Linked DNA regions of Homo sapiens. The protein of the gene in region 1 interacts with the protein of each later gene in a biochemical or structural test. Each region holds a gene or a part of one and is shown on either strand. Other genes may lie near its edges.

Evidence for each region. Proteins that work in one complex are often made in the same cells at the same time.
Region 2: of the proteins of CDC7 (region 1) and MCM4, one has a biochemical effect on the other in vitro, tested with the Homo sapiens proteins (2 studies listed by BioGRID).

What each region holds. Positions count from the first base shown.
Region 1 is NC_000001.11:91,517,851-91,521,350, reverse strand, and holds part of CDC7 (cell division cycle 7-related protein kinase), read right to left. Parts: intron 2,819-3,500; exon of another isoform or gene 2,676-2,818; intron 1,222-2,675; coding exon 1,072-1,221; intron 1-1,071. UniProt on the Homo sapiens protein: Kinase involved in initiation of DNA replication. Phosphorylates critical substrates that regulate the G1/S phase transition and initiation of DNA replication, such as MCM proteins and CLASPIN.
Region 2 is NC_000008.11:47,970,941-47,974,440, forward strand, and holds part of MCM4 (DNA replication licensing factor MCM4), read left to right. Parts: intron 1-400; coding exon 401-528; intron 529-1,916; coding exon 1,917-2,124; intron 2,125-3,500. UniProt on the Homo sapiens protein: Acts as a component of the MCM2-7 complex (MCM complex) which is the replicative helicase essential for 'once per cell cycle' DNA replication initiation and elongation in eukaryotic cells.

The DNA of each region.
Region 1 (3,500 bases):
TTTTTGCAGTGGTTCTTAAACACCCATAGTTTCTTAGTCAGAATCACTTGCTTTTTCAAACTAACAAGGCTGGAGCCTTCCTAAGTATCTTGTTTTTCTGAATCATATTTTCCAAGAATAGGCTGAGTGGGCAGGCATATGTATTTCTTAAAGATTCTCAGATAATTCTGACATGCAACTCTGGTTAAGACCCACTGATCCTGGGGTTGAGCACAAGACAGCCCAGCTACTCTTGAGGTAGGCTGGCTGAAACTTTGTCTCCTGAGGTGTTCTGTATTGTATGGTAGTAAGCTGAGTCAATCCCACTTATTCCTTGGAAAGTATTAACTATAACTGAGCGTGGAAAATAAACATTAAATGGGCACTTGAGTTCAGATTGTTGGCCAGAGCAAGGCTGAGATAATTCTTATGTGCCCTATGAAGTACACTGCACATCCCAGTCTTGAAGAACTTGCGTGGCTAAGGAGATGACATCCAAGTCCAATATATGCTTACAATAATATCCCATCAGTTAAGGCCTTCTATGCATTCTGCTTCTCTGCTACCGTAAACCTACACAACCTGACAACACACATTTCCATTCTCTTCCCTAGTCCTTATTACACTGTATTAATAATTAACTGTTTACTTGTTAGTATAGCCTAAGATCATTTAAGGCAAGGACACTCTAAGTACCAAGACATAGTGCATCTGATGTTTAAAAGACAATAAAAAAGTAAAACATATTACAAAGTAAAACATGCCTTTAATAAAAGGTAAATTTATGTAATAAAAGTCAAACCATAACTAAAAGGAGTTAAGATTTTACTCCTTATTCTTATAAAATTATAAAGGTAAACTTTAAATACTGCAACAGTGTATTACTTTGTGCTTAATAAGATTAAATGATTATATGTATAGAGAGGTGATAAATTTATTTTCAAGCAACTGAAGAATTTTCTACTTAATATTAGAGAACTTTATCAAGACTGAATGTTTATTTGTAAAGAAAATTTCACAATAATTTATTAAGTGATTTGTAGGAGATAATCAAAGGCATTTTGTTTGGTTCTATAATACAAAACTGCTTACCAAAAGTTTTAGCAGCTTGGATAGTTTCTCTGGATCCCCTAATTGTCATAATTTGGGCCAAAGCAGTTAAATCATCACTTGCTTTATAAAATGGATATCGTCCACTAAGCAAAGAAAGAAATATGACACCTGCAGACCACATGTCAATTGCTGCAACAGAAGACAAATTTTAAAAATAAATTTCAAATCTATAATTTTATCATCTAAATCAATAGTCCTCAACATTTATTATGCATTAGAATCACCTTGGGAGCCTTAAAAATTTCAGATGCCCAGACCCAAAGATTTTGATTGAACAGTTCTGAAGTAGGGCTCAGGCATCAATGTTTTAAAAAAGTTCCTCAGGTGATTTTAATGTACAACCAGGACTGAGAATCCTCACTGCAAAATATGTTTTCTTTCTTGAGCAACGTGTTGGTAAATTTAAAAGGATATTTAATCACTAGGAAACACTAAGTAAACGCACATTTTATAGGATCAAAAGGAATCCAAAAATAGCTATGTGGGAAAAAATCTGAATGATCCTTGAGAATTACATACCATACTGGTCAAAGTGCTTTCATTTTAGTGAAAAGTAATGAACATTAGAAGCTCTTCTTCAGCTGACACTAGCACCAACTACTGCTATAGAAACTTTTAAAAAATTACTTTTTTATTTTTTTGTGACTGTGAAGACTTTAATTTTTCTGAGTACACAGTAGGTGTATATATTGATGGGGTATATAAGATGTTTTGATACAGGCATGCAGTGTGTAATAATCACATCCTGGAAAACAGGGTATCCATTCCCTCAAGCATTTATCCTTTGTGTTACGAACAATCCAATTATATTCTTTTCTTTTTTTCTTTTTGAGACAAGGTCTCCCTCTGTGGCCCAGACTAGAGTGCAGTGGCACAGTCTCAGCTCACTGCAATCTCTGCCTCCCAGGTTCAAGCAATTCTCATGCTTCAGCCTCTTGAGTAGCTGGGATTACAGGCATGTCACCATGCCCAGCTCTTTTTTTTTTTTTTTTTTTTTTTTTTGTATTTTTAGTAGAGACGAGGTTTTGCCACATTGGCCAGGCTGGTCTCAAGCTCCTGGGCTCAAGTGATCTGCCTGCCTCAGCCCCTCAAAGTACTCTTTTAGTTATTTTAAACTGCACAATTAAATTACTGACTATAATCCCCCTGCTGTGCTATCAAATACTAGGTCTTAATTCATTCTTTTTTTTTTTTTTTCGAGATGGGGTCTGGCTCTGTTACCCAGGCTAGAGTGTGGTAGTGTGATCTCGGCTCACTGCAACCTCCGCCTCCCAGGCTCAAGTGATCCTCCCACCTCAGCCTCCTGAGTAGCTGGGACCACAGATGCACACTACCACATCCAGCTACTTTTTTGTATTTTTGGTAGAAATAGGGTTCTACCATGTTGCCCAAGCTGGTCTCGAGTGCCTGAGCTCAAGCAATCCACCTGCCTTGGCCTCCCAAAGTGCTGGATAATTCATTCTTTATAACTATTTTTTGTACCCATCAGCTGTCCCCACATCCCCCACACCCTCCCACCACCCTTCTCAGCCTCTGGTAACCATCTTTCTGCTCTCTATGGGTTCAATTGTTTTAATTTTTAGATCCCACAAATTAGTGAGAACATGCAACTCTTGTCTTTCGGTGCCTGGCTTATTTCACCTGACATAATGATCTCCAGTTCCATCCATGTTGTTGCAAATGACAAGATCTTCTTTTTCGTGGCTGAATAGTACTTCCATTGTGTGTAAGTACCACATTTTCTTTATCCATTCATCTGTTGACGGACACTTAGGTCGCTTTCAAATTTTGGCTATTATGAATAGTGCTTCAACAAACATGGGAGTGCAGATACCTCTTCGGTACATTGATTTCCTTTCTTTTGGGTATATACCCAGCAGTGGGATTGTTGGATCATGTAGTAGCTCTATTTTTAGTTTTTTGAGGAACGTCCAAATTGTTTTCCATAGTGGTTGTACTAATTTACATTCCCACTATAGAAACTTTAATCTTCTGAATTCTGGTAGTTAAAGATTACGACTAGCTCAACTTGATGTTAAAAAGCTCTTTTTTTTTTTTCTTAAAGTTGACATCTCTCTTAATTGTTGACTTCCTAGTATCACCAGGTTATCTGCTCTCTGTTCCTTGGGCTACTGTATCACCTTTTTTTTTTTTTTTTTTTTTTTGAGACTGAGTCTCACTCTGTTGCTCAGGCTGGAGTGCAATGGTGCGATCTTGGCTCACTGTAACCTCTGCCTCCCGGGTTCAATTCTCCTGCCTCAGCCTCCCCAGTAGCTGGAACTACAGGTGTGTGCCACCATGCCCTGCTAATTTTTTGTACTTTTTAGTAGAGACGGGATTTCGCCATATTGGCCAGGCTGATCTCGAACTCCTGACCTAGTGATCTGCCTGCCTTGGCCTCCCAAAGT
Region 2 (3,500 bases), on another chromosome or scaffold:
GTCTGTGGAACTGTGCTGTGCTACCTTGGTTCTAACTTGGGGAGATTGATAAGTGCTTTCCACATCATATTTCAGCTAAATCTCAACATGTCTTCTACAGGGTGTCACGTTTTGTCTTTATTGCTGTACTAGCCTTGAATTTGTCCTAAAGCTCTTGCAAGGTGCCTGCTTCCTGAGAAAGATGTGGTTATAGCACACATTCATCTAAACTCAGTCCTTGGCATGAATCTGAGGACAGGGCTTATCCAGGTGAACTGCTGAAGTCAGTAAAGGCAACATGGCTCAGGCAATAGAAACTCAGTGGAGGGAATATGGGTTTAGTAGGTGGCCGGGCGAAGACGGTGCTTGTTAATTGCCAGCGTCAGGGAGAGGCTTCTAACTGCACTCTTTGCTCTGATAGGCTGGGATCATCTGTCAGCTCAATGCGCGCACCTCTGTCCTGGCAGCAGCAAATCCCATTGAGTCTCAGTGGAATCCTAAAAAAACAACCATTGAAAACATCCAGCTGCCTCATACTTTATTATCAAGGTATTAAAACAGATTTTTATTTTGTTCATTTGTAGAATATTCAGGGTGAGATTGAAAAGGAGCTACTAAGATTTCAGCAACTGCTAATGGAAACTCTTCACTCTTATCAAGATGTTTCAAATTTGGTTGGTCAAGAGTTTTCACGACAAGGATGATGTGTGTTCTCATTTGTTTTTTAAGCAGTTGGGATGTTTACCTCCCACGCCGTTTACACATGGCTGTCACTCACTACTCTTAGTCCTAAAGCCACTGCTGAGAGTCAACAGAGAACAATTCCGTACAGTAGATGAGGCTCTGAAAAGTTAGATTTATTAAAGTGCAATCACATAATCTTCACTCTTGGCCCCACTACAAATATTGGACATTTTTCATAAATGGATTTTAGGTTTTAATTACTTGCTTTTTTTTCTTTTTTTTTGACAGAAGTTTTTTTTCCCAAAAAAACAGTTGAATGTGTTTTCATTCAAATCTTTCCATTGTCAGCCAGGTACAGTGACTCACACCTGTAATTCCAGCACTTTGGGAGGCTGAGGTGGGTGGATCGCCTGAGCTCAGGAGTTTGAGGCCACCCTGGGCAACTTGATGAAACCCCATCTCTACTAAAATACAAAAAATTAGCCCGGCGTGGCGGCGCATGCCTGTAATCCCAGCTACTCGGGAGGCTGAGGAGGCACAAGAATTGCTTGAGCCTGGGGGAGTGGAGATTGCAGTGAGCTGAGATCATACCACTTCACTCTAGCTTGGGCTACAGAGTGAGACTCTGTCTCAAAAAAAAAAAAAAAAAAAAAACTTTCCATCGTCAAAATTATAGTAACGTTTCCCTAAGGGAAGACTTCCTTTGACTCAGCTGATTGGTCCCCAGCCGTTCCCTGGGCCGACCTAAGGACTAGGGACAGCACAGGGTGAGTGGGGTGAGTGGATGGACACGAAGGCCCTTTCCACACCAGGCAAAGATGCTTCTCCCTGATGGCGCTCACAGGGTGCACATTGACTGCACATCTGTGGTGCTCAAGCAGTCTTTAGTACGTCGTTTGTAGGTGTATTGGTGTCTCAACTAGGAAAACAGTTTTTTTGTTGTTGTTTTGGGTTTTTTTGTTTGTTTTTTTGAGACAGAGTCTCCCTCTGTCGGCCAGGCTGGAGTGCAGTGACGCGAACTTGGCTCACCGCAACCTTCGCCTTCCAGGTTCAAGCGATTCTCCTGCTTCAGCCTCCCAAGTAGCTGGGATTACAGGCAGGCACCACCACTCCTGGCTAATTGTTGCATTTTTAGTAGAGACAAGGTTTCACCGTGTTGGCCAGGCTGGTCTCAAACTACCAACCTCAGGTGATCCACCTGCCTCGGCCTCACAAGGTGCTGGAAAAACAGTATTTTTACTTTGTTTTCTTAGGTTTGATTTGATCTTCCTCTTGCTGGACCCTCAGGACGAAGCCTATGACAGGCGTCTGGCTCACCACCTGGTCGCACTGTACTACCAGAGCGAGGAGCAGGCAGAGGAGGAGCTCCTGGACATGGCGGTGCTAAAGGACTACATTGCCTACGCGCACAGCACCATCATGCCGCGGCTAAGTGAGGAAGCCAGCCAGGCTCTCATCGAGGTAACCCTGCTGAAAAAAGGCTTACTGTGCCTGTAGCCCACAGCATTAATGTAACTGACCAATCATCTCCTTTAAAATATTAATTATTTTGTTACGAATAACATACTGTTCTCTTCCTTGTTTTGAGACAGAGCCTGGCTCTCTTGCCCAGGCTGGAGTGCAGTGGCTTGATCTCGGCTTACTGCAGCCTGTGGCCTGTGCTTCTGGGTTCAAGCGATTCTCCTGCTTCAGCCTCCCTATTAGCTGGGATTACAGGTGCCCACAACCACTCCGGCTAATTTTTGTATTTTTAGTAGAGACAGAGTTTCACCGTGTTGGCCAGGCTGGTCTTGAAATCCTGACCTCAAGTGATGCGCCAGCCTCTGCCTCCCAAAGTGTTAGGATTGCAGGCGCAAGCCACCATGCTGGGCCTAAGAATAATAAACTTTTCTTTTTTTTTTTTTTGTGAGACGGAGTCTCGCTGTGTCCCCCAGGCTGGACTGCAGTGGCGCGATCTCGGCTCACTGCAAGCTCCACCTCCCGGATTCACGCCATTCTCCTGCCTCAGCCTCCTGAGTAGCTGGGATTACAGGCACCCACCACCACGCCTGGCTAATTTTTTGTATTTTTAGTAGAGACGGGGTTTCACTGTGTTAGGATGGTCTCGATCTCCTGACCTCGTGATCCGCCTGCCTCGGCCTCCCAAAGTGCTGGGATTACAGGCGTGAGCCACCGCGCCTAGCAATATACTATTTTTTATAACTGTTTATTACTTCCTCCCATATTGCAAAATTGATCTTTCCAAATGTTGCAAAAGGGGGAAATAGTTCATTTATGTAGGTAGTACACACACTTTATATGTTTAAGTACTTACAAGCATAGTGAATTTAAGATCAAAGACCTGGTTTCAAATAGAGGCAACACTACACAGTAATTTGGAAACTGAAAAAGTCATCCAGTTTCTGTAAGCTTCCTTTTGCTTGTAAAAAACAGAATGAGCTGTCTTTTAGGTTCACTTTTCAGCATCCTGGTACATGAGCTGAAGTGCATGATGGCACATTTAGGTTATTCAAGCATTGTGATATTAAGAAGGTTCCTGGTGCTTTGATGAGCTTTGCATCCTAACTGAGCTCCTAAAAATTCTAAGATGAAAGTTACAGACATTATGTAATTTTTTTGTGTGTCATAGTCTTGGGGGTTGTTAATGAAGAAATAAGACTGTGTCATCTGTATGTGAAATTGATACAACTTACCTTTGCAGCATTCTCCCAGCAATCCTTATGAGCCCCATTGTGCCCCATGTGAGCACTTTTCCCAGACAGGCCTGATTCTCCCTATGAGTGCTCACAGCCTTCTCCTCTCCCCACATGCCACATTCCTTCCCTCTGCCACGCCAT